Homo sapiens: one gene and its partners. The protein of the gene in region 1 purifies or fractionates together with the protein of each later gene. This does not show direct contact. Each region holds a gene or a part of one and is shown in the gene's direction. Other genes may lie near its edges. The genes, in order: DIRAS2, HRNR, PKM, KRT2, KRT9 and BRAF.

Region 1 (5,189 bases):
TCTTTTACTTGCCATAATATTTTCAGGATTTATCCATGTTGCAGTATGTACCAGTTCCTTTTTCTTGATGAATAATATTTCATGAAATGGGTAGATTGCATTTTACTTATCCATTCATTAGTTACAAACATTTGTGCTGTTTCCACTTTTTGGCTATTATGCTTAATATTGCTATGAGTATCATTGTATAAATTTTTGTGTGGCTATGTGTTTTTATTTATCATGGGTATATACAAAGGAGGGGAATTGCTGGGTCATATTATAATTCTGTTTAACCTTTTGAGGAACTGCTAGAATTTTTTCCAAAACAGCAATATCATTTTACATTTTTTGCCAGCAATGCACAATGCACAAAGGTTCAAATGCTCCTACAGCCTTGTCAACATTTGTTATTTTCTGGGTTTGTTTTTTGTTGTTGTTGATTATAACCATCCAAGTGAGTATGAAGCGGTACTTTATAGTTTGTTTTGTTTTGTTTTGTTTTTGAGACGGAGTTTCGCTCTTGTCACCCAGGCTGTAGTGAAATGACGTGATCTTGGCACACTGCAACCTCTGCCTCCTGGGTTCAAGTGATTCTCCTGCCTCAGCCTCCCAAGTAACTGGGATTACAGGCACCTGCCACCATACCTGGCTAATTTTTTTTGTATTTTCAGTAGAGACGGGGTTTCACCATGTTGGCCAGGCTGGTCTTGAACTCCTGACCTCAGGTGATCCACCCACTTCGATCTCCCAATATGCTGGGATTACTGGCATGAGCCACCGCCCCCAGCCTTTGTTTTGTTTTTTGAGATGAGTCAGAGTCTCACTCTGTTGCTAGGCTGGAGTGCAGTGGTGAGATCTTGGCTCACTGCAACCTCTGCCCCCCAGGTTCAAGCAATTCTCCTGCCTCAGCCTCCTGAGTAGCTGGGACTATAAGCATGCGCCACCATGCCCAGCTAATTTTTGTATTTTTAGAGACAAGATTTCATCATGTTGGCTAGGATGGTCTTGATCTCTTGATCTTGTGATCTGCCTGCCTCGGCCTCCCAAGTGATGGGATTACAGGCTTGTTATAGTTTTGATTTGCACTTCCCTGGTGACTATTATGTTGAGTATCTTTTCATGTTATTGACTTATTATTGGCTATTTGTATATCTTCTTATTGACTATTAAATATAGTCAATAAATTCATATATCTTCTTTTGAGAAATGTCTTTTTAAGTCTTTTGCCCATTTCTAATTGAGTTGTTTTGTTGTTGTTGAATTGTAGAAGTTCTTTGTATATACCAGAACTAGTCCCTTATCAGATATATGATTTATAACAATACTCACTTATCCTGTGGGTTACTTCTTTCTTGATTGTGTCCTTTAGTTTTGATGAAGTCACATTTACCTAGTTTTAATCTTGTTGCTCATACTTTTGGTGTCACATCTAAGAAAACACTGTTTACTCCAAGGTTATCAAGGTTTATACCTATGTTTTCTTCTAAGAGTTTTATAGTTTTAGCTCTTATATTTAGGTATTTGATCTATTTTGAGTCAGTTTTGTGTATGGTGTGAGGGAGAGGTGCTCCCCTTATTCTTTTACCAGTTTCAGCGTCATTTGTTGAAAAGACTATTCCTTCTGCCTTTTGAATTGAATTTTATTGACACCCTTGTCAAAAAACAATTGACTGTAAATATGAGGGTTTATTTCTGGACTCTGAATTCTATTCTGTTCATGTATCTGTGTATCCTGTGTTAGTACCACAATTTCTTGATGTATTATATCCTTGTCGTGAGTTTGAAATCAGGAAGTATGGGTCTGCCAGCTTTTTCACTTTTAATTTTTCAACATTGTTTTGACTATTCTGGGTCTCTTGAATTTTTACATAAATTTTGGGATCGGTTTGTCAGTTTCTGCAGAGTCGCTAGTGGGATGCTTTTAAGAATTGCATTGAATCTGTAGGTGATTCCTGGAAATACTGCTATCTTAGCAGTAAAAGTCCTCTGATACATGACATGGGGTGCTTTTCCATTTATTCGTGTATTCAATTTCTTTCAACCATGTTTGTAATTTCCAGATATGTTTTGCATCTTTTGTTAAATTTATTCCTAAGTATCTTACTCTTTTTGATGCTATTATAAATTGAGTTATTTTCTTAAATTTCATTTTCAGATTGTTCATTGCAAGTGTATAGAAATACAGTTGGTTCTTTATATGAATGTTGTATTCTGAAATCTTATTGAATGAGTTTAATAGCTAGTTGCCCTCTTGTGAATTTTTCTCCTTGTCCATCATACTGCTCCTTTATGAACCCCTTATCTGCATGGTCCTTCTTGAATGTAGCCAAAAAACTATGTGCTGAGAGCTGTTCAAGTGCTTGATTGCATTGTGTTACTCCCCACATTAGTCTCATAAACAACTTGGCATTATTATATCCATTTCCTAGCTAAAGCAACTCAAATGCAGAAAGTTTAAGTAACTTGCCAAGTTCTCTCAATAGCATATAACAGATTGGGCATGTGGTATTCTCCTTTCATTCTACATGCTCTCTCCCTGGAGAATTTTTGTTTATTATAGTGCTGTTTGTGTATGAATGGTATCCAGATATTTATCACTAGATGAGTCCTCTCTGCTGAACTTTCACACTAAATCCCAATCACCTACCAGATATCTCCCCCATTTGTCCCATAAACCTGACCCAATCACAGCTCCTTTCTCCTTGTTGTTTACTGTCATTTCTCTAAAGCTGCTTCTCTCTTCTGCCTTTTATCTTGATTGATGGTGAGTGCCACCACTCACTTGCTACCCCAAATTCACTCCTGGATGCCAGTTTACACAAGCTGTCTACCATGGCATGAGCATTAGCTCTATTTCCTCCATTTATTCCTTCCTATGAAGTTCTTTCTTCTGACTAACACGCCTTTCATCACTTCACCATCTGGCAAGTTCCAGCCCTCTGTGAAATGCTTCCTGAGGGCTCCAGGCAGAGCTAGATTCCCCACTAGGTTCTTATCCTGCCTTTGTTGATAACTAGATCACAGCATCTGCGAAGTGGGGCGTAATGTATACTTTCCTATGCTTGTCCCCCCTCTAATGCTGTGAGTGCTGTTGGGTAAGCACTGAGTTTGCACAGTATCTAGAAGACATTTTATAAATGCTTGTGAAATAAATGAATGGTTCTGACATGGAAGAAAATAGTTTACAATTTTTTTTTTTTTTTTTTTTTTGTGATGGAGTCTTGCTCTGTCACCCAGGCTGGAGTGCGGTGGCATGATCTCAGCTCACTGCCACCTCCACCTCCCAGGTTCAAGTGATTCTCTACAGTCTGGGTTTTTGTTAGTGAGTTGAAGATCACTATGGAGTTATTGGCCCAGGCCTATCTCATAAATGCACATTGAACTTTATACCCCTTCAACTTTCTGACTCCTGTTCATCTTTCAGATTCATGCTTCCATGCCACCTCCTTAGTGAAATTCTTCCTGATATCTCAAATTTCATGAAATTCCTTCAGACCTCTCTTTTGCAGCACTTGCTATGATATAATTTATTAAATATTTATGAAGTTATCTTTTGGATTGATGTCTGCTTTACTTGATTCTGAGTTTCATGAGAATAGAGATCCTTCCTTAAGTCTGTCCTCTGCACAGTTGTTTTCTGGCCGCTTGTCCACAGCCTGGTTTAGTGGAAGCTCAGTGGATATTTCTCTGGGTAAATGAATAATTGTAGCCATGAATACTTTATTTTATGTTTAGCATTTACTTCCTATGTGTTCGTTGCCAGTTTAATAATGGAGACACCTTAACATAGCTGACCACATATTCAGCAAACTCATAAAGAGTGTATGTGCTGTGAACCAAGAGATCTTTGAGATACATTGGGATGCAGAACTTGTTAAGATATGTTCTCTTCCAGCTAGATGCTTATGCTCTAGTCTGGAGCTACATAACCATAATACAAGGCAAAACGAGTGAGGAAACTCCCTTCTAAGCAAAAAGAGAGCTTCATTCTGAGGATGTAGAAAGAAGCTTAAGATTAGATTCCATTGTCCATTTTCTATGGTTTAAATGTGTTCCCTAAAAGTGCATATGTTAGAAATGTAATCCTCAAATGTGTATGTTCATGGTATTTGGAAGTGGGGCTTTTAGGAATAGATGAGGTCATGAGGAGGCTGGGCAATGCCTGTCATGGCATCAGTGGCTTTATAAGACAAGGAGAGAGACCCTAGCTGACATGCTTGCTCTGTCTTATCATGCCATGCCCTCCAGTATGTTATGAGGCAACAAAAGGCTCTCACCAGATCCAGCTTCTTCATATTGGACTTACCATCCTCCAGAACTGTAAGAAGTAGATTGCTTTTAAAATTATTTCATCTGAGGTATTCTGTTATAGTGACAGAAAACAAACTAAGACACGATTGAGTTTTTTTAAAAAAATTGTGGAAAAATTTATCACAATGCTTCACCCTTGAATTAATCATAATTATCTCATAAGCATTTAATAAACTTCACCAAACTCCTAAGCAGACTCTTCTGCCATCTTTTGGTGTTAATGAACTTCCTAACAGTCTTTTATATTTTCTGTTAGCATTGATGTTTCCTTAGCTTCTTGGAGGGTTTGGGATTCCAAAGTGCATGCAAGAACAGCTGAGTATTGAATCGAGCAGATTTGTAGGCAGACGCATGAGGCAAAATGAGAAGGTGGAATACCTCAGTCCAGGGCTTTGACCTGATGTTCTGTCTGTCAGGAGAACATATTCACTGCACAAATGCATTTCCTTCCATTGGTAGTTATGTTTAATATTTTTACTGGACTCTAAAACTTATTTGCTTCAGTAAAGCTTTTTATTGTTTTTCCAAAGTTGCCCTAAAACTAGAAAGGTGAAAAGTCAGCACAATGCCTGCTTGCTGAGAAGAATGAATTCCATGCTTCACATTACCATGTTACTTATCAACTTCAGTTTTAAAAATGTATCCAAATTGTGTAATTCTCTATTTTGTTTGGTGTTATATGTCCTTCCTTACCGAAGAAGGTACAGAATGAAAAAATTTTGATAGATTGTAAATTAAGAAGGCACATCTACACATCCCTGAATAAAAATAAATATTAAACTAGGGGTGAAGTTTGTGATGAAGAGTTGCTGCATTCTCCTCATTTTTAATGACCCTTAAAAAGTAGTTTATGCTACTATCCTGGTAATACCTGATTCCTTATGTTTCTTAAAAAT
Region 2 (4,307 bases), on another chromosome or scaffold:
GCACTTCTGTAGCCAAGGACAGCATGGTTCTACATCAGGACAGTCATCAACCTTTGACCAGGAGGGATCTAGCACAGGTCAGTCTTCCAGCCACGGTCAGCATGGCTCTGGCTCAAGTCAGTCTTCTAGCTATGGCCAACAGGGCTCTGGATCTGGCCAGTCTCCTAGTCGCGGCCGACATGGGTCCGGTTCCGGGCACTCTTCCAGCTACGGCCAACATGGGTCTGGCTCCGGTTGGTCTTCCAGCAGTGGCCGACATGGGTCTGGCTCAGGTCAGTCTTCTGGATTTGGTCACCACGAGTCTAGCTCATGGCAGTCCTCTGGTTACACTCAGCATGGATCTGGCTCAGGTCACTCCTCCAGCTACGAACAACACGGCTCTAGGTCAGGACAGTCATCTAGGGGTGAACGACACGGATCTAGCTCAGGTTCATCTTCCAGCTATGGTCAGCATGGGTCTGGCTCCCGTCAGTCTTTGGGCCACGGCCAACATGGGTCTGGATCTGGCCAGTCTCCTAGCCCTAGCCGTGGCCGACATGGGTCTGGTTCTGGGCAGTCTTCCAGCTACAGCCCATATGGGTCTGGCTCAGGGTGGTCTTCCAGCCGTGGCCCATATGAGTCTGGCTCCGGTCACTCTTCTGGCTTAGGTCACCGAGAGTCTCGCTCAGGACAGTCCTCTGGCTACGGTCAACATGGATCTAGCTCAGGTCATTCCTCTACCCATGGGCAACATGGTTCTACATCAGGACAGTCATCGAGCTGTGGCCAACATGGAGCTAGCTCAGGTCAGTCTTCCAGCCACGGTCAGCATGGCTCTGGCTCAAGTCAGTCTTCTGGCTATGGCCGACAGGGCTCTGGATCTGGCCAGTCTCCAGGCCACGGCCAGCGTGGGTCTGGGTCAAGGCAGTCTCCCAGCTACGGCCGACATGGGTCTGGCTCCGGTCGGTCTTCCAGCAGTGGCCAACATGGGTCTGGCTTAGGCGAGTCTTCTGGCTTTGGTCACCACGAGTCTAGCTCAGGGCAGTCCTCTAGTTACAGTCAGCATGGGTCTGGCTCAGGTCACTCCTCTGGCTACGGACAACACGGCTCTAGATCAGGACAGTCATCTAGGGGTGAACGACACGGATCTAGCTCAGGTTCGTCTTCCCACTATGGTCAGCATGGGTCTGGCTCCCGTCAGTCTTCGGGCCACGGCCGACAAGGGTCTGGATCTGGCCAGTCCCCTAGCCGCGGCCGACATGGGTCCGGTTTGGGGCACTCCTCCAGCCACGGCCAACATGGGTCTGGCTCAGGTCGTTCTTCCAGCCGTGGCCCATATGAGTCTCGCTTGGGTCACTCTTCTGTCTTTGGTCAACATGAGTCTGGCTCAGGACATTCCTCTGCTTACAGTCAGCATGGTAGTGGCTCAGGGCACTTCTGTAGCCAAGGACAGCATGGTTCTACATCAGGACAGTCATCAACCTTTGACCAGGAGGGATCTAGCACAGGCCAGTCTTCCAGCTATGGCCACCGTGGCTCTGGCTCCAGTCAGTCTTCTGGCTATGGCCGACATGGGGCTGGATCTGGCCAGTCTCTTAGCCACGGCCGACACGGGTCTGGTTCAGGGCAGTCTTCCAGCTACGGCCAACATGGGTCTGGCTCAGGACAGTCCTCTGGTTATAGTCAGCATGGAAGTGGCTCAGGGCAAGATGGGTATTCTTATTGCAAAGGAGGAAGTAACCATGATGGGGGAAGTTCTGGCTCATATTTTCTCAGTTTTCCTAGTAGCACTTCACCCTATGAATATGTCCAAGAGCAGAGGTGCTACTTTTATCAGTGAATAATAAACATAAATGCAATTTACTCAAGTAGCAATTTAAGAAATAGGAAAGTCATCTATGAATTCATCATGAAAGACAAGCAATCCATCATGAAATTCGTTCTAAAAGTGAATCAATGCATTTCTGTCTCTTTCTTTAGAGCCTAAAACTGTAGCATATATCTTGTTATGGGGTTCCTTCCAAAGACTGTTAGGCATTTGTGCTACTTTGTTAGAAAATACTGAGTGGAATAACTTGTTAGAATGAGGGTTAAACTTTGAGGAATAATGAAAAGCTTTTAAAGAGCTTTGGGTTTAGTTGGAGTTGTCTTTTTGAGAGCTCATCATTCATTTATAGATGGTGCCAAAGCTAACCTTACATTTCTTAGAAGCAAAATATTACAAATGCATTACCAGTCCTAGATACAAAGCTTTGTTTTACAGCAATTAGTGTACCCTAATTTTTAGTGTGCCCCAAGTTTGGTGTGTCCCAATTTTTGGTATTGTGGCAGAAGGTGAAGGCTCTGAAAGCAAAGATGCAGCAGCGGTAGTGTCTTTACTTATCAAAACCATCAAGTCCTTTTTCTTGGGTATATATTTAATCAGTAAGTTAATTAGTGGCATAAAAAAGTAGCATCAGGGTCTTTTCCCAAGCCAGTGAGCAAGAGCATTATTTCATAAAGAATAGGGATTTATCATTTCAGGAAAAAAAAAAACATTCAAATGTGGGCTTTAGCTTGTTTTCAGCAGAAAGATCTTGCTCCCTATTTCTAAGAGGCTGCTCAATATTGGGAAATATATTGAGGAGTTATTCCATGGAAATACAATGCTTTCCACCTACTACTGTAGTTCAATAACGTTTCCACCTGAAAAAATATCATCCATGCCCAGATGAAAAGGAAGAGTATCTGTCACTGCTACATAGTTCCTTAATTTGACTGTAACACATTTGTTTCAAGTCTTTGGATTCAAACAACCGGATTGTATTAAAATTGACAATAAATAAATGTTGATTAAATACTAAGACTTTTCTCATCTGTGCTTCATTTCACTTCTTACATACAGATGGTCATCCTAGAAACCAAACCAAACAGCGATTTCCCAATATTCTATTTTTCACAATGAAGAATAGATAAAGCATTCTTAAAACTCAATAAGACAAACTACTTCATTTTAAAATGATCAAAATTCCATCACACTGGTATTGGCAATGATTTTTTTGATATGACACCAAAATCACACACAATAATGTGGAGCTGTCAGCTCCATACATTTTATTGTCCCTGAAGCCCTTAGAGGGAGACAACATATGGAGGTAGAAGGCGATATTTGTCTTGGTTTAACAAAAACTTTTTAGTGTTAGTTTTAATTTTTAACAAAAAAAGTTTTTTAAAAAAATTTAAAACAGAAAAAAGCCTACAGAATAATGATGTAAAGAAAAAAATATTTGTGTTCAGCTATACAATGTGTTCGTGCTTTAAGCTAGGTGTTAATTAAGAGAGTCAAAAAGTTTAAAAATGTAAAAGTCTATAAACCTAAAAATTTACAGTAAGCTAAAGTTAATTTTTACTGGAGGAAGAAATTCTTTTATAAATTTAGTGTAATTCAAGTGTATAGTGTTTACACACTCTACAGTAGTATACAGTAATGTCCTAGGCCTTCCCATTCACTCACCACTCACTGACTGACACCTACAGCAACTTCTAGTCCTACATGCTCTATTCATGGTAAGTGCCCTATACAAGTGTACCTTTTTTATCTTTTATGCCATATTTTTACTGTACCTTCTTTATGTTTAGATACATTTAGATGCACACTTACCATTGTGTTAGTTGCCTACAGTACTCAGTACAGTAACATGCTGTATAGGTTTGTAGCCTAGGAGCAATAATCTATACCATATAGCCTAGTTGTTTATTGGCTATACCATCTATATTTGTGTAAGTACACTCTCTGATGTTTGCCTAAGGGTGCATTTTTCACAACATATCCCCCATTGTTAAGCAACACGATTGTGTACTTTACTATAGGGCCTAGCAATTCCACTCCCAAGCGAAATGACAACGTATGTCTACATTGAAGATTTTTACATGAATGTTTATAGCAGCTTTAATAATAGCCCCAAACTTGAAACAATCCAAATGTCCACGAACAGATGACTGGATAAACAAATTGTGGTATGGCTATACAATGGAATTCTATTTAGCAAGGAAAAAAAGAATAAACTACTGATACATGTAACACAGATGAATCTCAAAAACACGTTGATCAAAAGAAGCCATCCACAAAAGAGTACATATTTATGATTCCATCTATATGAAACTTACTAAAACAAACCTAATCTATAAAAATAGAAAGTAGATCAGTGGTTGACTAGGGCTGGGAGTAGAACTTGTGAACTGTCTGGAAGAGTCACAAAGGAACACTCTAGGGTGATGGAATAAATCTATATGTAGATTATAATGGTAGTTACATATATATATACTTTTGTCAAAACTTACATAATCGT
Region 3 (5,189 bases), on another chromosome or scaffold:
CAGCTTTGGCAACTAGTCTTCAGCCCTCACTTTTGGCAGTTCACATGGGCAAGATGCATTCTTGCTGAACATGTGGTTCCATATGCCATGTTTTCCAGATTTATTTATTTATTTATTTATTTATTTAGAGAGGGAGTCTCGCTCTGTCATCCAGGCTGGAGTGCAGTGGCACGATCTTGGCTCACTGCAACCTCTGCCTCCTGGGTTCAAGAGATTCTTCTGCCTCAGCCTCCTAAGTATCTGAGATTACAGGCACCTGCCACCACACCCGACTAATTTTTGTATTTTAGTAGAGACTTGGTTTCACCTTGTTGGCCAGGCTGATCTCGAATTCCTGACCTCAAGTGATCCATCCGCCTTGGCCTCCCAAATTGCTGGGATTACAGGCGTGAGCCACCACACCTGGCCTAGAAATAATGACTTTTAAACAACCTAAATGTAGAGCCTTCCACAGGACAGCATTGATGGATGCTTTACCACATAACATCCCAATAAAGCCACAGCTGAAGTGGAAGACTCAGTACACCTCCCAGAGATGCTCTAAGAGATTATGATATATGACATAGATTTGAATAATATACCTAATAATTGGTATGTTTATAATATATGGTTTTACATCCCCAAGACCAAAAATGCATGTTTGCATGAAACACTCATGGTTACAAAAATATATTAGGCCACCAAAAAAACCCCCACGTTTCATAAAGTAGAAATTATACAGACACATTCTCTGATAAAATTTTTTAGTGGAAATTAAGAACAAAGTCAAGAAAACTGAAGTGTGCTTACTTTAGAAAGCAAAGATCTCAAGGTAGATGAAATAAATATTTAACTCAGAACACTAGGGGAGGAAAACCCTAAAAAGGGTGAAGAAAATAATTTTGTAAGATTATAGCTCAATGAAATGAAAATAAATTTGACAGATTAAGCTAAGAGCTGATTCTTTGTGGGGAAAAAATAGTAAAATAGAAAGTTCTGAGAAGCCAGGTGAAGAATGCGAGGATGTGCAAATAAGAGTATGAATAGAAAAGAGAATATTTCCTACACATTGGAGATTTTAAAAGTCAAGAAAGACTTATAACTTAATTCCTATATAGAGAGATGACTCTGGCTATTTTCAAAGAAAAGATAAATATCCAAAAGATAGAAAATATGAATAGACCAGTGGCCATAAGAAGTTGAAAAAGTGGGCTGGGCGTGCGGTGGCTCACACCTGCAATCCCAGCACTTTGGGAGGCCAAGGCGGAGGGATCACTTGAGGTCAGGAGTTCGAGACCAGCCTGGCCAACATGGTGAAACCCTGTCTCTACTAAAAATACAAAAATTGGCTGGGCATGGTGGCACATGCCTGCAGTCCCAGCTACTCGGGAGCCTGAGGCAGGAGAATCGCTTGAACCTGAGAGGTGGAGGCTACAGTGAGCCAAGATCGCGCCACTGCACTCCAGCCAAAAAGTTGAAAAAGTGATTAAGATCTGGTTCACCTCAGAACACTTAAGTCCAAATGATTTTAGTGGCTGAATTGTCTCCCCTTCAAAGTTCAGTTACATTGTTAAACTGTTCCAGAGCCTAGAGAAATATAGAAATCTTCCCACTGTGTTCTTTGAAACCAATATACGCTGATACTGAGATCAAACAAGGACAGTACCAAAACCAGGCAGGTACTAACAGTTAGTGTGCTAGACCAGTCTCACTTAGATGCAGAAAACAAATAAAATTTAATAATCCAAATCCAGTAGTGATTGAAAGGAATGTCTTGATCCATGACCAAGTAGATTTTATTCTAGGAGAACAAAATTCTACATCGGGATTAAGTAGAGTTAAGGTTGACATTTTTTTTTTTTTCTTCTGAGACGGAGTCTCGCTCTGTCACCCAGGCTGGAATGCAGTGGCACGATCTCGGCTCACTGCAACCTCTGCCTTCCGGGTTCACACCATTCTCTTGCCTCAGCCTCCCGAGTAGCTGGGACTACAGGCGCCTGCTACCACGCCCGGCTAATTTTGTTTTTGTACTTTTAGTAGAGACGGGGTTTCACCATGTTAGCCAGGATGGTCTCGATCTCCTGACCTTGTGATCCCCCCTCCTCGGCCTCCCAAAGTGCTGGGATTACAGGCGTGAGCCACTGCGCCTGGCCTGAGTTAAGGTTGACTTTTAAACAACCTAAATATAGCTAAATATAGAGCCTTCCGCAGGACAGCATTGATGTGTGGAACTCTTATCCACGTGATAACATCCCAACAAAGCCACAGCTGTAGTGGAACTCAGTACACCTGAGTCTTATCATTATAAGATGATAATAGGTAACATTTATTAGATAATTACCATGTACTTTGTCCTAATACTTCATGTATTCTTTTACTCCTCACGTCAACTCTGAAGGAAAGGCACCACCTATCCCCTTAAAAGAAAACAACTATTACTATTCTTTTTTTTTTTTTTCTTTTAGAGACGGAATCTCACTCTGTCTGTCGCCCAGGCTGGAGTGCAGTGGCACGATCTCGGCTCACTGCAACTTCTGCCTCCTAGGTTCAAGTGGTTCTCTTGCCTCAGCCTCCTGAATAGCTGGGACTACAGGTGCACGCCACCACGCCCAGCTAATTTTTGTATTTTAAGTTGAGACGAGGTTTCACCATGTTGGCCTGGTTGTTGTCAATCTCTTGATCTCATGATCCACCCGCCTTGGCCTTCCAAAGTGTTTAGATGACAGGTGTGAGCCACCGCGCCCAGCCTCTATTCTATTCTATTTTGTTCTATTTCTATTACAAGCCAGTAAGCAAGAAAATATCATAATTTATAAGGAACCCTATAAAAAACAGACAAGCCAAGGGTCTGTCATTAGGAAGTATGCCTGAATAAGAAGCTGAAGATTTTTAGACACAGGTTTCAGGCAACACTGTCTTTAGAGGCTAGGCTCTGGCTCCAGCTCCCTCCAGCCTCCTGTGAATAACAGGCAGGCTTACTTGCAGGTGCCACTTTCCTGGACAGTGGTGGTTAAAGGACAAGGCCCAGAAAGTGCTGAATTAGGTGCCCTTGTTACCGCTAATGTCTTATTGATGACACTATCTTAGAGCTCTTTTGACATCTTGGCTCTGCGTCTTTTTTTTTTTTTTTTCTTGAGATAGGGTGTTGCTTTGTTATCCAGGCCGGAGTGCAGTGGTGTGATCATGGCTCACTGTAGCCTTGACCTCCTAGACATAACCCACCTCAGCCTCACAAGTAGCTGGGACCCCAGGCACGCACCATCATGCACAGTTAATTTTTGTGTTTTTTGTAGAGACGAGGTTTCGCCATGTTGCCCAGGCTCATCTCAAACTCCTGGCCCAAACTGTCCTCCCACCTTAGCCTCCCAAAGTGTTTGGTTTATAGGCATGAGCCACTGTGCTTAGCCTGAGTCCCTCTTTTAAACAAACAAAATGGTAAATGGAAAGGAGGAAAGGCTTAAGAAAAAAGATTGAAGCCAGGATTTGTTGTAAGCAAGGAGTAATAAAGGGCAGTTCATTTAGAGAAAGGCATATGACCACCTTTCCCCCTCCAATCAGAATCTAGAAAGTGATTGAGGCCGGGCGCAGTGGCTCACGCCTGTAATCCCAGCACTTTGGGAGGCCGAGGTGGGCGGATCACGAGATCAGGAGATCGAGACCATCCTGGCTAACATGGTGAAACCCCGTCTCTACTAAAAATCGAAGAAGTTAGCCAGGCGTGGTGGTGGGCGCCTGCAGTCCCAGCTACTCGGGAGGCTGAGAGGCAGGAGAATGGCGTGAACCTGGGAGGTGGAGCTTGCAGTGAGCCTAGATAGTGCCACTGCACTCCAGCCTGGGCGACAGAGCAAGACTCTGTCTCAAAAAAAAAAAAAACAAAGCGATTGAGAAAATCAGGTCTGTGTGACCTTAGCAATGAGTTATTTAGCTTGGGCCACTGTTAGCTTAAGTCAATAACTTCAAGTTTGCGTTGTAGTTGGAATCAATAGAGGAAAAGCTCTCAGCATTACCACATATATCAGAATGTGACATTGATTGCCAGACCAGCCTTATCCAAACACAAGTCCTAGGCTTTTTGCCCTGTTTATGAGCTTTATATGCTGAGGGTATTTGATGAGTCTTAGGGAAAAAAGAACAGCCCTGGGGACACAGCTGCTTTTATGATGAGACATGTTTGCACCCATACCTTAATGGGTTTTGGTGGCAATATTCTGAAATTTGCCACCTACATTTCAAAGATTTGCCCTTTGGGTGAATTAGTGCTGTAGTAGAAGTGGGTGGAGGCTGAGGAGGTTGGATTAAGCAGGTAGAGGATTTCTCAGTGCATGGATCGTGCTGAGGATGGAGATAGAGCTCTAAGACATCCACGGGCCTTTCCTGAGTGATCAGCTTTGGCTCCTGGGCAGGGGAATTGGAGCTGGATTCTAGTGTGGGAGCACGCTTGTCATCTTCCTTCTTTTCCCCCAGTACCATGCGGAGACCATCAAGAATGTGCGCACAGCCACGGAAAGCTTTGCTTCTGACCCCATCCTCTACCGGCCCGTTGCTGTGGCTCTAGACACTAAAGGACCTGAGATCCGAACTGGGCTCATCAAGGGCGTGAGTATTCTGCGGAGAGCGAGGGGAAGGCTCAGTAGGCAATATGCCCCAGAGACATGTCCTCCAAAGCGCTGGGTTGCCATGTTTCTTCCCAGTACTATGAAGGACTGCAGAGGAGTTGAGGTCTACAAATGAGGATTTATTCATCACTGTAAACAATGTTGATTTGATCTACTTTGCTAGGAAATGGTACCACAAAGGAACCTTTTTTTTTTACCCTAAAAACCTAAACTTTAGGCTTTCTAACTTGGAGAACCATCTCTTTGTATCTTTTTCCCCATCATTAAGTAGCATAACTGAAACATATTCTTTTCTTGGATTATTTCCGTGAAGTATACAGAGTTAGAGAATAAGAGCAAAAAACTGTATTACTTTTAGCAGTGACTTGAGCATTGTTCCCGGGAGGAAAGAGCTTTTCCATTCCTTCTGAGGTGATGCTGCTACTGGTGTCTCCAGTTTGGACTCTTGCTTACTCTCTTGTCCCTAGAGCGGCACTGCAGAGGTGGAGCTGAAGAAGGGAGCCACTCTCAAAATCACGCTGGATAACGCCTACATGGAAAAGTGTGACGAGAACATCCTGTGGCTGGACTACAAGAACATCTGCAAGGTGGTGG
Region 4 (5,775 bases), on another chromosome or scaffold:
AGGATTTTGTTCTATAGGATTCCTGTTCTCTTCTCAGAGACAGTGAAGCTTAACACTCTTTGCAGCAATAGCTCGATGTCCTTGTGGGACAGTAGGGATTCAGGATAAATATTCCTATTTTATAGATGAAGAAATTGAGGATACCAGTTGCGTAGAGGCAAAATCACAACCAGACCAAGATTCTTAACTTCCATTTCACTCTCTTAAAGAATGCAAAGCATATTATCTAGGAAAGCACATTGAGATTATGTAAAAGTTGAAAATTTAAAAATATAGAAATAAAATGTTACATAATATTCAAATTGCATTAATTCTAGTCTCCACATTTCAAAAGAGTAGGAGGACTCTTTCAACTTGACTTTCAAAAATTGGTGAATGGGTCTAGAAGGAGAAGATGTTCAGTGGAGAGAGTGGGGAGGGAGACCAGGGTGTGAGGGCAGAATTAAAATGCAGTAAAACATGCAGATTGGGTGCCTAGCACAAATCTGGCTCAATTTCCTTCATAGAGGCATTAAGACCCCCCTGAAGCTGCCATAGTGTGAGCACAGTCATGGTGGAGTAAGGGACGACTAGGGCATTGCTCAGATATCTGTAGATAATGACACATTTTGCTTTGGATTGAGACTGTCTCCAAAGCTGTTAGCTTCATGATTTGTTTGCATGATTATAATTATGCAAACCAGATTGGAAAAAATAATTGAGGAGACATGTAGCTTTGTTTCCTTCAGCATTCTTTTACTGCAAATTAAATACCTTGAATAGTAGTTAAGACAGGATTGGAAACTTGGCGGGGAAGATGCAGAAGGGTGAATAGCATTTATTGAGTTTCTGCTATGAACTAGGAACTGTGTTTAGCACATGTGTGTATTGTTCTGTTTTCACAGTAGCCATATTCTTATTATTCTTGTTCACTTTTTATAGATGAGGAAACTGAGGCTTGAAGAGGATTATGGATTATCTGAGGTCATTTAACTAAGATACAAGAAAATTGGGATTTGACCTCAAACTTATGTTTTTTACATTATTTTGTGATAACTTGGTACTAGGATCTGAACCACCTGGTTCTGTAATTTATGATGCCTGTGGAGAGTGCATGTTCATAGTAGCCAGAAGACAGTAACATGGCAAGGGGGAAAGGAAAAGGAATTATCTTTGTCTCACCCCAAACAATAATGATACTGACATTTTATTGTGCACGGTGGTTTTCAAAACACTTCATACGAATTTCCCATTTTATAGCTGGGACCACAGAGCCTCAGGGTTTCATTCAAGGCCTCACAGCCAATAAATAGCAAAACTGGGACTCAAACCCAGAATTTCTGACTAAATTCAGTTTTATTACTCCAAGAACCTCTCCCACATAGTTGGCCACATGGACAGAGGAAGTGGTTGAGTTTAAGTGTGAGTGCTCTGTGCAGGCTGGATGGTCTTCTTATCCTCAAGCATCTGTGGATGTCATTGAAGAGCCTGACTTCCTAATCACTTCCCAGGATCACCAGGCAATACGTGATTACTGACTGACTGAATCAATATACACTTGGATCTTGGTTTGCAAACTTTCACTTGGTGTCCCGCATCACACAGGTCCAGAAACAGCGAAACTTTTCTCATACCTCTCAACCTCTGGGTGTTCATGTAGACAAGGGACAGTTGATGGTTATACAAACCATCATGGTTATAAAAAATCTCTATTCGGTGCCTAGTTATTGTGTATTTTTGGTGTGGCATGGGAAGAAAAGAGCCAAGATATTTTGAAAATCGACACCTCTTTTGCAGTATCCGAGGCCAATTACTTTCTGTAAGAGGAGGTCGATTTCCAATTAGCATTTAAGGTCATTTAAGACCTTTGCAGTCTCCCCTGCACTAGTTGGGGCTCTTTCTGGGAAAGAGGGAAACTACAAGAGAACTACAAGGCTGGCATTGAGGGGCTCTTGCAGTCTCTAAACCCACCATCCCTTTCATTGTTGAACTGGGGTGGTGAGCCTGCACAAGCATGGGTGGTAGCTGACTTCCCTTGGGCAGGTCCAGAACAGGGAGCAGCATTCTGCAGAAGGTCCTTTTCCAGATTGAGAAACCCAAACCCTGATCTCCTCTTTTGATGATTTTACAAAAATCAAATTGCATGACAGATGCCCAGATAAACAGAAGTTTGCAATCAAAGCAAGTTCTGGGATGGAGCTGATTAGTAGATTTTTAATGGCTATTAGCTTGATAATCACGCACCAGGAATAGCTCCCAGGCAGACCAAACCCACGTATAAGTGGATCCACACCCATGTACACAACACCTAGTTGGCAGGTATATAAGGGGACCCTGAAAGCCTCCCAGCAGCACAGTTGAGTCTCCAGCCTTGACTCTTCTCAAGAGCCTGTGACTTTCCTCCCTGGACAAAGGCATCATGAGTTGTCAGATCTCTTGCAAATCTCGAGGAAGAGGAGGAGGTGGAGGAGGATTCCGGGGCTTCAGCAGCGGCTCAGCTGTGGTGTCTGGTGGAAGCCGGAGATCAACTTCCAGCTTCTCCTGCTTGAGCCGCCATGGTGGTGGTGGCGGGGGCTTCGGTGGAGGCGGCTTTGGCAGTCGGAGTCTTGTTGGCCTTGGAGGGACCAAGAGCATCTCCATTAGTGTGGCTGGAGGAGGTGGTGGCTTTGGCGCCGCTGGTGGATTTGGTGGCAGAGGAGGTGGTTTTGGAGGCGGCAGCAGCTTTGGAGGTGGCAGCGGCTTCAGTGGTGGTGGTTTCGGTGGAGGCGGCTTTGGTGGAGGCCGCTTTGGAGGTTTTGGGGGCCCTGGTGGTGTTGGAGGTTTAGGGGGTCCTGGTGGCTTTGGGCCTGGAGGATACCCTGGTGGCATCCACGAAGTCTCTGTCAACCAGAGCCTCCTGCAGCCTCTCAACGTGAAAGTTGACCCAGAGATCCAGAATGTGAAGGCCCAAGAGCGTGAGCAGATCAAAACTCTCAACAACAAATTTGCCTCCTTCATTGACAAGGTGACTCTGGAGAAGACGGCTCCCACTGATGCTCAGGCCACTTCACTTCCAGAGCCAACCAAAAAGAAAATGGCACAGATTTGTATTTCTTAGGAGCCAGTGGTGTACCGCAGTAGCCTGGGTCATTTGCGGTTTCCAGATGGAAAAGACGCCAGCTTTGTGGGTTACATTTCCCATAACAGCCTGCACTTAGGAAGCATTTGTCCCTTTGACCTTATTGTTACAGTCCATATAAATAATATTTATGGAAAATTCTGAAAACCATAAAAAATGGATATAGGCAAGTATTGAACTGATCCTTGGGACAGGCCACTGGAGCAGCAGGTTTTGGAAGCCATCGTCTTCTGAGATAGTGTTTCCTTCCTTAGCAGTGATTACTAAACTCTGGGAAGCTGAACCTGAAATATCTGCTTGGGAATGCAGGAAATTCCTGCCTTCAAGAGAAGCGTTCTCAGTTTTGTGATCCATAAAGTCTTTATTGGTGTCACTTCGGAGTGTTACTGGCTTTTCTCCTATTTCAAGGCAGACGAACCTGTCTTGGTTTATCTGCCTTGAAATAGGCAGGGATTTACAAGGCTCTTAAAAATCAGGCTGAGGAGCCCTGCCCTCTGGGACTCTCATACTCAGCACCCTTGCGAGCAGTGCCAGCAGATGGCTGCTTTCGGTTTTCCCCAGAATTTATGGGATCTTGGCTGGAAATTCAACCAGGATGCGGGGAGGGAAATGGTCTAGAGTATTGGGAGCAGCTGCAAACAAACCAGTGAGCAGTGAAGCAGCAAAGAGTCTCCTCTGCGTGGAGAGAGCCGGATGTAGCATTAGGAGTCTGTGGGACTTTCCAGGGGCGAAAGCAGGGAGCTCAGAAGCTCTGCCAGTCATGACTCGGCATCCAGCCTCAGACACTTCTCGAGGTCCTGAAGCAGCACCTGAGCTGCCCCTGGCCAGCGTGGCTTGCTTGGTGTGAAGGATGATCTAGAACTCATGTGCTCTCCTTCTGGTCATGGCAGGTGCGGTTCTTGGAGCAGCAGAACCAGGTGTTACAGACCAAATGGGAGCTGCTACAACAAATGAATGTTGGCACCCGCCCCATCAACCTGGAGCCCATCTTCCAGGGGTATATCGACAGCCTCAAGAGATATCTGGATGGGCTCACTGCAGAAAGAACATCACAGAATTCAGAGCTGAATAACATGCAGGATCTTGTGGAGGATTATAAGAAGAAGTAGGTGGCAGAGTGAAACGCTGAGTGGAGATAAACATTGCACTGAGCCATTTGATCACTCCCTGGAAAGCCATTCATCTCCCAGTTGCATTTGTGGTGGTAATGGGGAGAGGCATATGTATCTTTGTTGATTATTTGTGAGGAAGACAGTGAGACTTTAGAGATCATTTTTGTCTTTTGTATGTTTGAGAGTTAGTTTATAAAAATATATCTTTAGTTTGGAAATCTTAGTTTCAATTTAGATATTTAAAAAGTGTGTAATATTCCCAGAGAATGGGGCATTTGGGGTGAATCCAGTATAAAAGGAAAAGAAAAAAAATGAAGGGGAACTAATCTAACTGCTGTAACATCTGTGTCCCAATAGGTATGAGGATGAAATCAATAAGCGCACAGCTGCTGAGAATGATTTTGTGACGCTTAAAAAGGTGAGCGAGAGAATGTCTTGGCTGGGGGTGGGGATAGGAGTGCTTCACAGCCCCATTGTGTCTAAGCAGCCAGTTTGGAAATCAACTGTGAGTGCAAAAGCAGCAGCCAGAGAAAGGAGTGAGACCCATGGCACATTCTCTTGCAAACAAAATTGTCTCTGTAGGTCAAGCTTCTGGATACAGTTTTCAAAGCTGTTCTGCATTTTTGGTAGAGTGCTTCCCAGTAGTAACCCACTTAAAGCCTCTACTGAATCATGATAAATGCAAACACAAAAATCTCTTTGTATTCTCCTTCTAAAGAGCTGAGGAAGGAATGGGACTTCCCTTAGAATGCCTGCTTAAAGTTGCTGTTGGTTGTGCTGACAAAGGTTTGAGGTTGTAGGCCAAAAGCAAGGGTTCTCCTGCTGGGTCCTGCAGGGCCTTTGGTGTATATTCTGGGGAAATTTCGGAGAGGTGAGATGGACAGACGGGATGAGAGAGCTGAGGACTGTGGAAACCCACAAAGAACATCGTATCCTGTTGTAGAAACACACAGTGTCTCAAGCAGGAGAGAGGGGCTGGTTGGCAAAGCTTGGTCATCTCGAGGCTCTGATGGTCCTGAGGGCTGTGAGCCATGGACGTAGGCATGAAGTCCCTGGCAGAGGTGTATGGTAAACTGCACGACAAAAGAAGTCCCATGGGGACAGGGATCAGGTTGGGGAGCCTGGGATTTTAGAGAGGAGCCAGCAGGGACTGAGTAGAGGGGAGTGGCAGAGAGAGGAAGAGGCCTGTACAGGGAACCATACACCAGAGGCCTCAACCTTTCTTGCAGGACGTGGACAATGCCTACATGATAAAGGTGGAGTTGCAGTCCAAGGTGGACCTGCTGAACCAGGAAATTGAGTTTCTGAAAGTTCTCTATGATGCGGTAAGGAGGCTGCTCCGGGACAGTCCCTTACTTCCCACCCTTCTCACCAAATGAAAGTCCTTTCTGCTTGGTGAAAAAGTGGCAGAAGTGGGGTTTATGGACCAGCTGACTTCAATCTGCCATCATTCCAGGCCACTGGGGGGGCTTTCATAGCATAGGTCTTGTGGGTGAGGAATTTTCTCCTCCGATGTTATGGGAATAAGGTTCAGGAAACACCAGGACAGCTTCCCCTCCCTCCATT
Region 5 (5,413 bases), on another chromosome or scaffold:
CTGCGGCAGGTGCTGGACAATCTGACCATGGAGAAGTCTGACCTGGAGATGCAGTATGAGACTCTGCAGGAGGAGCTGATGGCCCTCAAGAAGAATCATAAGGAGGTAGGTTGCTGGGGCTTATGGCTTACCGGGAAGAGGGAGGAGCAGAAATGCAGAGACAGCAGGGGAGCTTTGGAACATTACCTGGGAGACACCCTCTCCTTTGCTCTTGAGGACACTTTCAACTTCTCCTTGGCATCACCTATGGTAGTGGTTGGGCTTTGGCTTCACAACTGTGTCCCCTTTTTGTACCCTGGGGGGACCAGAGGGAGAATTCTGAAAGGTGGTGCAGAGGACTTTATCCGTGACCTCATCTCCCCTTCTTCCCTGGCAGGAGATGAGTCAGCTGACTGGGCAGAACAGTGGAGATGTCAATGTGGAGATAAACGTTGCTCCTGGCAAAGATCTCACCAAGACCCTCAATGACATGCGTCAGGAGTATGAGCAGCTCATTGCTAAGAACAGAAAGGACATCGAGAATCAATATGAGACTCAGGTGAGCAGAGTGGGCTGCCCATTCATCCTCCTCCCCTCCATCTATTCCTATCTCCATCCCTCCCACCTCCCATTCCTTCATCCTCCTATCTCTGCATCTCTCAGTGCAGCTGTCATTTATCCATCTTCCAATGGAAGTCATTCATCCATCTTCATTCACTGCATACAAACATCATTACAAAGTAGCTTCTCAGTGCCATGTTATATGTAAAGTATTGATGTCTCAGAGGTATTGATGTCTGATATGAGCCAAACAAGACTGCTGCCCTTGAGAAGCTCACAGTTTATTAGATGTGTGTGAACAAAAGCAGAATGTGAACAATTTAATCTAATGCTATGTAATGTAAGACTATAGCAGAGGGATACAGTGTGTCTCCCATACTGTACTGAGCTCCTTGGTGGTTCCCTTCGTCCTTGAGTCTCCAGTGCCCAGCCAGAGTCTGGCACATACATGAAGGCATGGTCTGTGCTGTGTGTGTGTGTGTGTGTGTGTGTGTGTGTGTGTGTGTGTGTGTATGTTTGAAAGGTGGGGGAAGTTTGGAATAAGGTTAGATTAGAAAGATGGTTGTGAGACAAAGCGTGAAGGGTCTTGCAACTTTGTTGAGAGGGAATGTCATGTTGAGAGGACTGGACAACCCTCCATGGCTGGAGGGTACCCAGAACTCAGAATGACTTGTCATTGGCTTCAGATCAGCCTTGGCCCTGGAGGTGAAGATCCTGGTGAATGGGGCAGAATCTCACTCACTGAAGCTCCTGGCACAGCCTGATGCTTACTGAGCCTTTGGTTTTGCAGATAACCCAGATCGAGCATGAGGTATCCAGTAGTGGTCAGGAGGTGCAGTCCAGTGCCAAGGAGGTGACCCAGCTCCGGCACGGTGTCCAGGAGTTGGAGATTGAGCTGCAGTCTCAGCTCAGCAAGGTTGGTAGTTCTGCTATAGACCCTTTGCCAAGGTGGGGCACAGGAAGTCTTTGCAGCCCAGGAGTGGGAAGAAGAGGAGTTATGATGTAGCATCCCTCTTAAAGCCTTCTCCTAACCCTTAGAAAGCAGCTCTGGAGAAGAGCTTGGAAGACACGAAGAACCGCTACTGTGGCCAGCTGCAGATGATCCAGGAGCAGATCAGTAACTTGGAGGCCCAGATCACTGACGTCCGGCAAGAGATCGAGTGCCAGAATCAGGAATACAGCCTTCTGCTCAGCATTAAGATGCGGCTGGAGAAGGAAATCGAGACCTACCACAACCTCCTTGAGGGAGGCCAGGAAGACTTGTAGGTCCCCCAGGATTTGGTGGAACCCCTGGGGGTCCCTAGGCCTCTGATACTACTTCTGTCCCTCTGGATAGAGGCAGCTGGGGGAAGTTCTTATACACAGGGTCTTATGGGTTGAGGACTTCTTCATCCTGGGGGCCGGGGGGACCTCAGTGCATTTGGGCTTTGGGAAAGGAGGATGGTGACACTGAGAGAACGGGCTGCCTCCCTGCTCCAGGGAGGGGAGGGCTCCACAGTCTCAGCTGGAGGCTCTCCTCTCCCAGCTGTGGTGCCCGCCCAGACTCTGTCCTCTGCCTCCCAGGAAGGAAAACAGAAAGATTCATGTTTGGGTCCTGACTCTGTCCAGGTCCATCCTCATATATGTGTATGGGGGCCGCTCATTTTAACTCTCTTGTTTTCTTTCTTTCTTAGTGAATCCTCCGGAGCTGGAAAAATTGGCCTTGGAGGTCGAGGAGGAAGTGGAGGCAGTTATGGAAGAGGATCCAGGGGAGGAAGTGGAGGCAGCTATGGTGGAGGAGGAAGTGGAGGTGGCTATGGTGGAGGAAGTGGGTCCAGGGGAGGAAGTGGAGGCAGCTACGGTGGAGGAAGTGGTTCTGGAGGAGGTAGTGGAGGTGGCTATGGTGGAGGAAGTGGAGGTGGCCATAGCGGAGGAAGTGGAGGTGGTCATAGTGGAGGAAGTGGGGGCAACTATGGAGGAGGAAGTGGCTCTGGAGGAGGAAGTGGGGGTGGCTATGGTGGAGGAAGTGGGTCCAGGGGAGGAAGTGGAGGCAGCCATGGTGGAGGAAGTGGTTTTGGAGGTGAAAGTGGAGGCAGCTACGGAGGCGGTGAAGAAGCGAGTGGAAGTGGTGGCGGCTACGGAGGAGGAAGCGGAAAATCATCCCATTCCTAGTCTTCTTCCTCAAAATCTGGTGACCAAGATGAGACAAAAGGTAAGGGACAATCCTAGGTTGTGGGGTGGAGAGTCAAGGTCTCACCTTTTTTTTTTTTTGAGTATTTTTGAATCTCTGGGGAACACAGATTCTGAATAGAGCTAGATGTTAGGGAAATCTCTAGTGAGGTGTCAGAGACCTACCCTTGGTTCTGAATTGATCATTATTTTTGACAGAGCCTAGGATGAGGCTAGGACCAAATCTACACATGGCTGAGTCTCAGTAGTGTAGGAGATGGGTTGAAAATTGTGCATTATCATGACACACGCTATGAGGTAGGTTTTATTATAATCCCCATTTTAAGGAAAATGAGGTTCAGAGAAAATAATTTGCTCAAAGTCATACAATCACAAATGAAGGGTTCAGCTCTGTGGGGCTTCACAGCCAGTACTTTCAACCTTCATGAGGATGGGGGACCTGGATCAGCAACAGTTCAGGTGGAAAAGAGACTCAGGGATTTTAGTCAGTGGTTGGCTTGCACAAGTATTACATGATGCAACTGCCAAAAGGATGAACATAATCTAAATGTAAGAAAGGCTCACACAGGTGAGTTGGTCTCTAGATCAGGGAACATTTTCCCATGTACACATTGAATTTTATAAAATAAAAATGTAATATGAAATTATAGGAAAAGCCTGGGTAATATAACTGGGAATGTTTAGCTCAGAGAAGACTTGAGGTGCTTGGGAGCTGCCCTGCAGGGTGTCTAATGTGGTTTTGTGAGTCCAGTGGCACTGCAGGTCCATGGATATACATCTAGGAGTGAGGCTGGGGCCATCTTTTGCCTCAATATACAAAAAATTGACTAACAAATCTGTTGAATGGAGGGGGCTGCCTCATAAGCCCCCCATCCTCAGACTTGGGGGTGCATCTGTCAGGTTTGCTGCAACAGAGATTCAGGAATTAGATGGGGACCAGTAGATTGGGAGACCCCAGGGTCCTTCTACCTCAGGATTGTCCAGCTCTTTGAGCTCTAGTGTCCTTGCTTCGAGTTTCCCCATCTTCCCCCAAGTCCCAACCTCTCTGCTCCTGCTTACAGTCCTCCCTTCTCCCCCTCATCTCCCTTCCATCTCTCCACAGGCTTCCTTTCGCGATACTAGAGCCTCTGTAAACTTCTCCTGCCCAGCCCCAGCTGAGCATCCCCAGATGGGCAGACTCCCGATGAAGCCTGCTTATTGGATCCTGACATCAGGAATAGCTGGCAACAAGCCCCTGTGCCCGTTTGGGACTGAACTGACTTGGCATATGTGCCTCTGGCTTTCCATTGGCTTCCAACCCTGCTTGGCTTTGATGCCTTCAGGGTTGGGGAGACAGACCTCTTTCCTCTCTCTGGCCTGGGGTGCTCTCACACCCTGCACGATCTTGACTATAATAAAGCTTCCCTACTGCAAATCAAACTCAGACTTTGACCCATTTGTTCTTTGGGATTAAGAAGGGATAGGGTGGGTGGGACACAGTAGCTCATGTTTGTAATCCTAGCACTTTGGGAGGCTGAGACAGGAGGATCACTTGAGGCCAGGAGTTCAAGACTAGCTTGAGCAACATAGTGAGACCTGTCTTTACAAAAAACTAAAAACAAAACAAAACAAAAATTAGACAGGCATGGTTGCAGGCACCTGTGGTCCCAGCTACTCAAGAGACTGAGGTGGGAGGATTGCTTGGGCCCAGGAGTTGGAGGCTTCAGTGAGCTATGATTGCATCATTGCATTCCATCCTTGGTGACAGAGTAAAGGGATAATCAATCTGTTATAAAGAGTGTGGGTTCACTTTTCTATTAGTTAACTTTTGCTTGTAACAAAGGAACCCACATTTAGTGGCTGAAAATAACAACCATTCATTTAGCTTAACAGTTTTGCAGTTTAGTCTGGGAAGCTCTGGTTCCCTTTATGCATCTATGGTTCGCTGCAAGTCAGCCAGGTGGCTCTTCCTCTGGTAGTTGGCTGGATGCTGGCTGGGGTGATGAGGATGAATGGGGTCTGTGACTCCCATCCTCCAGCCAACTAGCTTGTGCATGTGTTCCAAGGTCATGAGCAGAAACATGCAAGGCATCTTGAGGTTTAGGTTCAGAGAAGTCACTTTGGCTGTATTATATTGGCCAAGCAAGTCGCAACCTAGCCCAGATTCAAGAGCAGGGGAAATAGACTTCTCTTGAGGGGAGGAACTGCAAAGTCACATGGCAATGGGCATGGATATAGGGAGGGCAATAACTGAAGCAATTTTTTGCAAACAATCTACCATAGTCTATTGTCACGTTGTGTGTTAGCTATGGAGGAAAACAAGACAAAAATGATGTGGTCTTTGCTTGCAAGATTTCAAGTAAAAAATATAAAAAATATAAAGTCCTTCAAGGCAAAGTAAGGGACATTCCACAAGACATCAGCCAACAATATTCTCTAAAGATTCTGATAGTCAAAAATCCTTTTTATTACTAGGGACAAATAGCCCCCCTCAGCCTATGTACCAGACACTATAGCTGCTTATTAAGCTACCCCAAAGTATAGAGGCTTAAAATGACAAAATTCATTTTGCTCATGAATCTGCAATTTTGACAGGGCTTGGTGGGGACTGCTTGTCTCTGCTCCTCTTGGTTTCATTGCTGCTTACAGGCTGGGGGCTGGAGTCATTTGAAGTCTTAGTCACTTACATACCTGGGCTCGCTGGGGCTCCTTGGACATCTCTCTC
Region 6 (5,189 bases), on another chromosome or scaffold:
AAAAACTATTATTCTAATTCCTTCCTGTATCAAGACTATGCATATAGAGGGAACTCAATGCCCAGTAACTTCTTTTTCTGGGCCCTGGTGATGTAGAATATAAAAATTGCTTTGAACTCAATTAACTTTATATCTTCTGGAAGCTCTGTAACATCGGATAAAGCGTCGTTTTCATTCTTGTAATGTAGCTGCAGTTCCTGACAGCACGTTTGGGACAAATGTACTGTGGGACGGTGGTTTTCAAAGTACGCCAGAGCTCTAGGAGAATTTTTCGAAAACATTCTATCATTGTAAATAATAATTTTTTTTTTTTTTTTTTTTGAGACGGAGTCTCGCTCTGTCTCGCAGACTGGAGTGCAGTGGCGCGATCTCAGCTCACTGCAAGCTCTGCCTCCCGGGTTCACGCCTTTCTGCCTTTCTCCTGCCTCAGCCTCCCCAGTAGCTGGGACTACAGGCGCCTGCCACCACGCCCAGCTAATTTTTTGTATTTTTAGTAGAGACGGGGTTTCACCGTGTTGGCCAGGATGGTCTCAATCTCCTGACCTCGTGATCTGCCCGCCTCAGCCTCCCAAAGTGCTGGGATTACAGGCGTGAGCCACCACACCTGGCCAGAATAAAAATTCCAAATTGCACTAATGCATATGTGAAACTGTTTTTGTCTGTTTTGTAGTTTTAAAATCTTCATCTATAATAGTACCTGGCACATAGGTACTAAAATATTTGGTGAAAGAATTAGTGAATAAAACCTTACTGGATATGAGGTGATCTGATTTTCTGTAACATTCTATTCTTTTTTTCTGCCGGTCACAAAATCACCTTATGAAATTGACAGCCAAATTGGCTGCAACAGGCAGTTTGAAAAACACTGTTTTGGGGTTTCAAGGACCTTCTTCAGAGGTTACCCCAGGGCTCTGTTTAGTGCCTCTATACCAGGGGCCCCCAACCCCTGGGCCACAGCCTCGTATCTACCAGTCCGTGACCTGTTAGGAACCTGACTACACCGCAGGAGGTGAGTGGCAGGCAAGTGAGCATTACCGCCAAAGCTCCACCTCCTGTCAGATCAGCGGCAGGAGCGTGAACCCTATCAGAAACTGTGCATGTGAGGGATCTAGATTGTGTGCTTCTTGTGAGAATCTAATGCCTGATGATCTGAGGTGGAACAATTTCATCCTGAAACCCCCTCTACCCCTGTCCATGGAAAAATTGTCTTCCATGAAATTGGTCACTGGTCCCAAAAAGGTTGGGGAGTGCTGCCCTATACCATAACTATTGAAGTTCTTCATTTATCTGCTTTACATGTTAGTTTCCTTGAAAAAAGGGTTTTATGGCTGTAAAAATTTTAGAGCTACTATGTATGGAAGAGAGGTTTGTGCTGGCATAAATCTTCTCAGGTATCATCTGTGTAGAAAATTTCAACAACTTGTGTCTTAAGGCAGAGGTCAGCAATCTTAAGGGTCAGATGGCAAATATTTTAGGCATTGTGGGACATACAGTTCCTCTCACAATTCCTCAACAATACTGTAGTAGCTCAGAAGTAGCTAATAGACAATATTTAAACAAATGAGTTTGACTCTGTTCCAGTAGTCATTTTCAGGACACTGAAATTTGAATTTCATATCATTTTCATGTGTCATGAAAATCTTCTTTTGATTTTTTTTCTACCACTTAAACATGTAAAAAGTATTCTTAGCTTGTGAGCTATACAAAAGCAGATAGTGGGCCAGTTCATGGGCTGAACTGTTCTGACTCCTGGTCTAAGGGAGACTATATATGTTATATTTGAGGTTCTCAAAGTAAGATGTAGGTTAGAGGTCTATAGAAAGTTCATAATTGCTTTTGTAAAAACTAGATTGATTTATTTGAGAGGGAGAGAGAGGTGGAGTTTCACTGTATTGCCCAGGCTGGACTTGAACTCTGGGCTCAAGCAATCTTCCAGCCTCAGCCTCCCAAGTAGCTAGGACTACAGGCATGCACCAAGCCCAGCTCCTAGTTCCTCTTTGCACTCAGTTTCATCTTCTACCCTCAGCCCCTGGCAAACACTGGTCTGATCTCTGTGCCCTTTCCAGAAAGTCATATAAATGGAGTCATATAAAAGTCATATCAGTGGGGCCGGGCATGGTGGCTCACACCTGTAATTTCAGCACTTTGGGAGGCTGAGGAGGGCAGATCACCTGAGGTCAGGAGTTTGAGACTGGCCTGGCCAACATGGTGAAACCCCCTCTCTACTAAAAATACAAAAATTAGCCGAGCATGGTGGTGGGCACCTGCAATCCCAGCTACCTGGGAGGCTGAGGCAGGAGAAACACTTGAACCCGGGAGAGGGAGGTTGTAGTGAGCCGAGATCGCGTCATTGCACTCCAGCAATTGTGAAGCAGTGGTTAAGGTTCATTCATTATTTTACATATGGATGTCCAGTTGTTTCACATTTATCAAATTTCTTTTGAATCACCTTGGCACTTTTATTGAAATCAATTGCTTATGTTTGTGAGTTTTGGATTCTACTGTTTTATTGATCTGTGTGTGTTTTCTTAGGCTAATACCCCACTACCTTAGTTATGATAGCTTTATAGTTAAATTTAAAATCAGGTAGGTCCAGTTGAGAAGATTTTTAGAACTTTGACTTTTTAATTTCTTGTTACCATACTTTTGGAAGGAGAAGACTCATAATTTTATTCAGGTTTTCAAAGGTGTCTTCTACCCCCAAATACTTAAGACTTCAGTATATAGTTAATATATCTCTGTCTTGAATTATGTGGTGGTGAGGTTCATGAAAAGTGACAGGTAAAAGTTGCAACCAAAATTAATTTCCTTATAAGAAAGGACATATTTTAGTAGGTTGCACAGAAAAGTCAATCACGTCCTTTTTACCGTGTTGCATTATGAGGTGTAATCAAAATGTGTATAGGGGAAAATGAATATGTTAAGATGTTTATTCACCAAAAAAAGTCACCGAAAGTGTCAATTAGGTTGTGAAAGATACTAGTTTACAATGTGTTATTCTCCATCTTCATTAGAAGAGTTCTTCCATTTGAAACCTATGTCATGTTCTGTGATATTTCAGAGTTAGTATCTTTATGAATCTTAGGGGCATCATTAAATCATTATGTTTCTTCTAAGGAAAGGCATATGGTAGTAGTTGGTCATATTTCTACCTTTTTCAGTGGGGCCTATAGGGCCCCTTTACTTTGTTTTAAACTGCACTGATAGCTTTTTACTGGTTAGCCCAGGGAATTATCCCTACAGTGTAAAATGATGTTTCTCATCATGATTTTCATTTAATAATTTAAAAACAAAATAACAGGAAACACATGTTTCTAGAGAGGAAGTGTGGAATACCTGACTAGTAGAGGGTCAGGTGACAATTGCGAAGGTAGAAACTGACTAAGTTTTGACCATGTTGCAAGGAGTATCGTTCCAGTTTTGTTGGGTCACCTTGCAGAGTTTTTAAAAAAAATCCTTGGGTTTTTTTTGTTTGTTTGTTTGTTTGTTTTGGTAGAGATGCTGTGTTGCTCAGGCTAGTCTCGAAATCCTGGGCTCAAGCAGTCCTTCCCAGAGTGCTGGGATTACAGGCATGAGCCACCGCACCCAGCATCACCTTGCCGATTTTGAAACTACACTTCCAGGGAGAGAGTAATACAATATCTTGGCAGACTATTTTTAACTATTGTTCCAAAATTAATCTGTTTTTAAAAAGTAAAGAAGTGTGGATATCTTTAAAAGATACTTTAATTAGGCTGGTCACGGTGGCTCATGCCTGTAATCCCAGCACTTTGGGAGGCCAGGATGGGTGGATCACCTGAGGTCAGGAGTTCGAGACCAACCTGACCAACATGGAGACACTCCGTCTCTACTAAAAATGCAAAAAATTAGCCGGGCATGGTGGCGCATGTCTGTAATCCCAGCTACTTGGGAGGCTGAGGCAGGAGAATTGCTTGAACCTGGGAGGCGGAGGTTGCAGTGAGCCGATATTGCGCCATTGCACTCCAGCCTGGGCAACAAGAGTGAGGGAAACTCCGTGTCAAAAAAAAAAAAAAAGATACTTTAATTATATTTAAGTTGGGGAATACTTTTGTTTTATATTTTTTCTTGCACTAAATATGTAACCTTTAAGTTAATAACACCAGAAAATTTTTACTTTATAGTTTTAGAACTGCTTAATTGAAATAAAATGTTAGGATACTTTGAATTAGTCACTTATTTTGGCATATTTTAAACAGTTTAATGTACTGCTTGGGGTTGTTTCTCAATTGACTTGATATTTTTAAACTGTATTTTTTACCTTGTACCATTTATTTTGCAAAATAAATTTCTATTTTGGCTTATAGATGTATTTTTAATATTAAAGGGGATTATTGGTGTCAGCCATAAAATTGTAATTAAGTCTTAAGTAGGTATGGTTTTTTTTTTTTTTTTTTTTTGGAGACGGAGTCTCGCTCTATCATCCATGCTGGAGTGCAGTGGTGTGATCTCGGCTCATTGCAACCTCCGCCCCCCCCCCCCCCCGGGTTCAAGTGATTCTCCTGCCTCAGCCTCCAGAGTAGCTGGCACTACAGGCGCATGCCACCATGCCCGGCTAATTTTTTTGTATTTTTGGTAGAGATGGGATTTCACCATGTTAGCTAGGATGGTCTCGATCTCCTGACCTCATGATCCGTCCGCCTCAGCCTCCCAAAGTGCTGGGATTACAGGCATGAGCCACCGTGCCTGGCTGATTATTTTTATAGAGCTCTTGTTAGCGTAATTTCTGGTAATGTTTTATGGAGGTGACTTAATTCCCATCATAAAAATATCCCATCTTTTCTGTGACTAGCAAGCAGTTATTGCCTTTATAACTTTTTTTTACCATAAAAAGATAAAGTACTATTGATAATTACTCCTAATTAACTCAGAACTTTTTTGTTTTACACACATTAATATATACTTCCATGGGAATAGTGTCAGAGAACATCAAATAGGGAAGAGATTATGATTCAGAGTGGTCTTTATATTCCTATTCTAGAGCCACAGAAAATGTTCATCTCCCTTTAGTTTTTGCAGGATTGCCTCTAACACTGATGATATTCCACTCATATTCTTCCTGCACATGCCTTCTCATACTAACAGTAAGTCACACAATCTCAAATAAGTTTCATTATACATGAGAACTCAGTTGAATGCTTGCCTTTCACTGGCATCTCTTGATCCTCCTC

The links.
Region 2: the proteins of DIRAS2 (region 1) and HRNR purify together in Homo sapiens (affinity purification with mass spectrometry, with the first as the bait; one study listed by BioGRID). This does not show direct contact.
Region 3: the proteins of DIRAS2 (region 1) and PKM purify together in Homo sapiens (affinity purification with mass spectrometry, with the first as the bait; one study listed by BioGRID). This does not show direct contact.
Region 4: the proteins of DIRAS2 (region 1) and KRT2 purify together in Homo sapiens (affinity purification with mass spectrometry, with the first as the bait; one study listed by BioGRID). This does not show direct contact.
Region 5: the proteins of DIRAS2 (region 1) and KRT9 purify together in Homo sapiens (affinity purification with mass spectrometry, with the first as the bait; one study listed by BioGRID). This does not show direct contact.
Region 6: the proteins of DIRAS2 (region 1) and BRAF purify together in Homo sapiens (affinity purification with western blotting; one study listed by BioGRID). This does not show direct contact.

Annotation. Positions count from the first base shown.
Region 1 is NC_000009.12:90,614,740-90,619,928, reverse strand, and holds part of DIRAS2 (GTP-binding protein Di-Ras2), read left to right. Parts: intron 1-5,189.
Region 2 is NC_000001.11:152,210,588-152,214,894, reverse strand, and holds the end of HRNR (hornerin), read left to right. Parts: coding exon 1-1,819; 3' UTR 1,820-2,819; downstream 2,820-4,307. UniProt on the Homo sapiens protein: Component of the epidermal cornified cell envelopes.
Region 3 is NC_000015.10:72,209,733-72,214,921, reverse strand, and holds part of PKM (pyruvate kinase PKM), read left to right. Parts: intron 1-4,443; coding exon 4,444-4,575; intron 4,576-5,062; coding exon 5,063-5,189. UniProt on the Homo sapiens protein: Catalyzes the final rate-limiting step of glycolysis by mediating the transfer of a phosphoryl group from phosphoenolpyruvate (PEP) to ADP, generating ATP.
Region 4 is NC_000012.12:52,648,766-52,654,540, reverse strand, and holds the start of KRT2 (keratin, type II cytoskeletal 2 epidermal), read left to right. Parts: upstream 1-2,329; 5' UTR 2,330-2,398; coding exon 2,399-2,983; intron 2,984-3,987; coding exon 3,988-4,202; intron 4,203-4,566; coding exon 4,567-4,627; intron 4,628-5,438; coding exon 5,439-5,534; intron 5,535-5,775.
Region 5 is NC_000017.11:41,564,551-41,569,963, reverse strand, and holds the end of KRT9 (keratin, type I cytoskeletal 9), read left to right. Parts: coding exon 1-105; intron 106-376; coding exon 377-538; intron 539-1,330; coding exon 1,331-1,456; intron 1,457-1,578; coding exon 1,579-1,802; intron 1,803-2,213; coding exon 2,214-2,691; 3' UTR 2,692-2,731; intron 2,732-3,811; 3' UTR 3,812-4,128; downstream 4,129-5,413. UniProt on the Homo sapiens protein: May serve an important special function either in the mature palmar and plantar skin tissue or in the morphogenetic program of the formation of these tissues. Plays a role in keratin filament assembly.
Region 6 is NC_000007.14:140,914,279-140,919,467, reverse strand, and holds part of BRAF (serine/threonine-protein kinase B-raf), read left to right. Parts: intron 1-5,189. UniProt on the Homo sapiens protein: Protein kinase involved in the transduction of mitogenic signals from the cell membrane to the nucleus. Phosphorylates MAP2K1, and thereby activates the MAP kinase signal transduction pathway. Phosphorylates PFKFB2.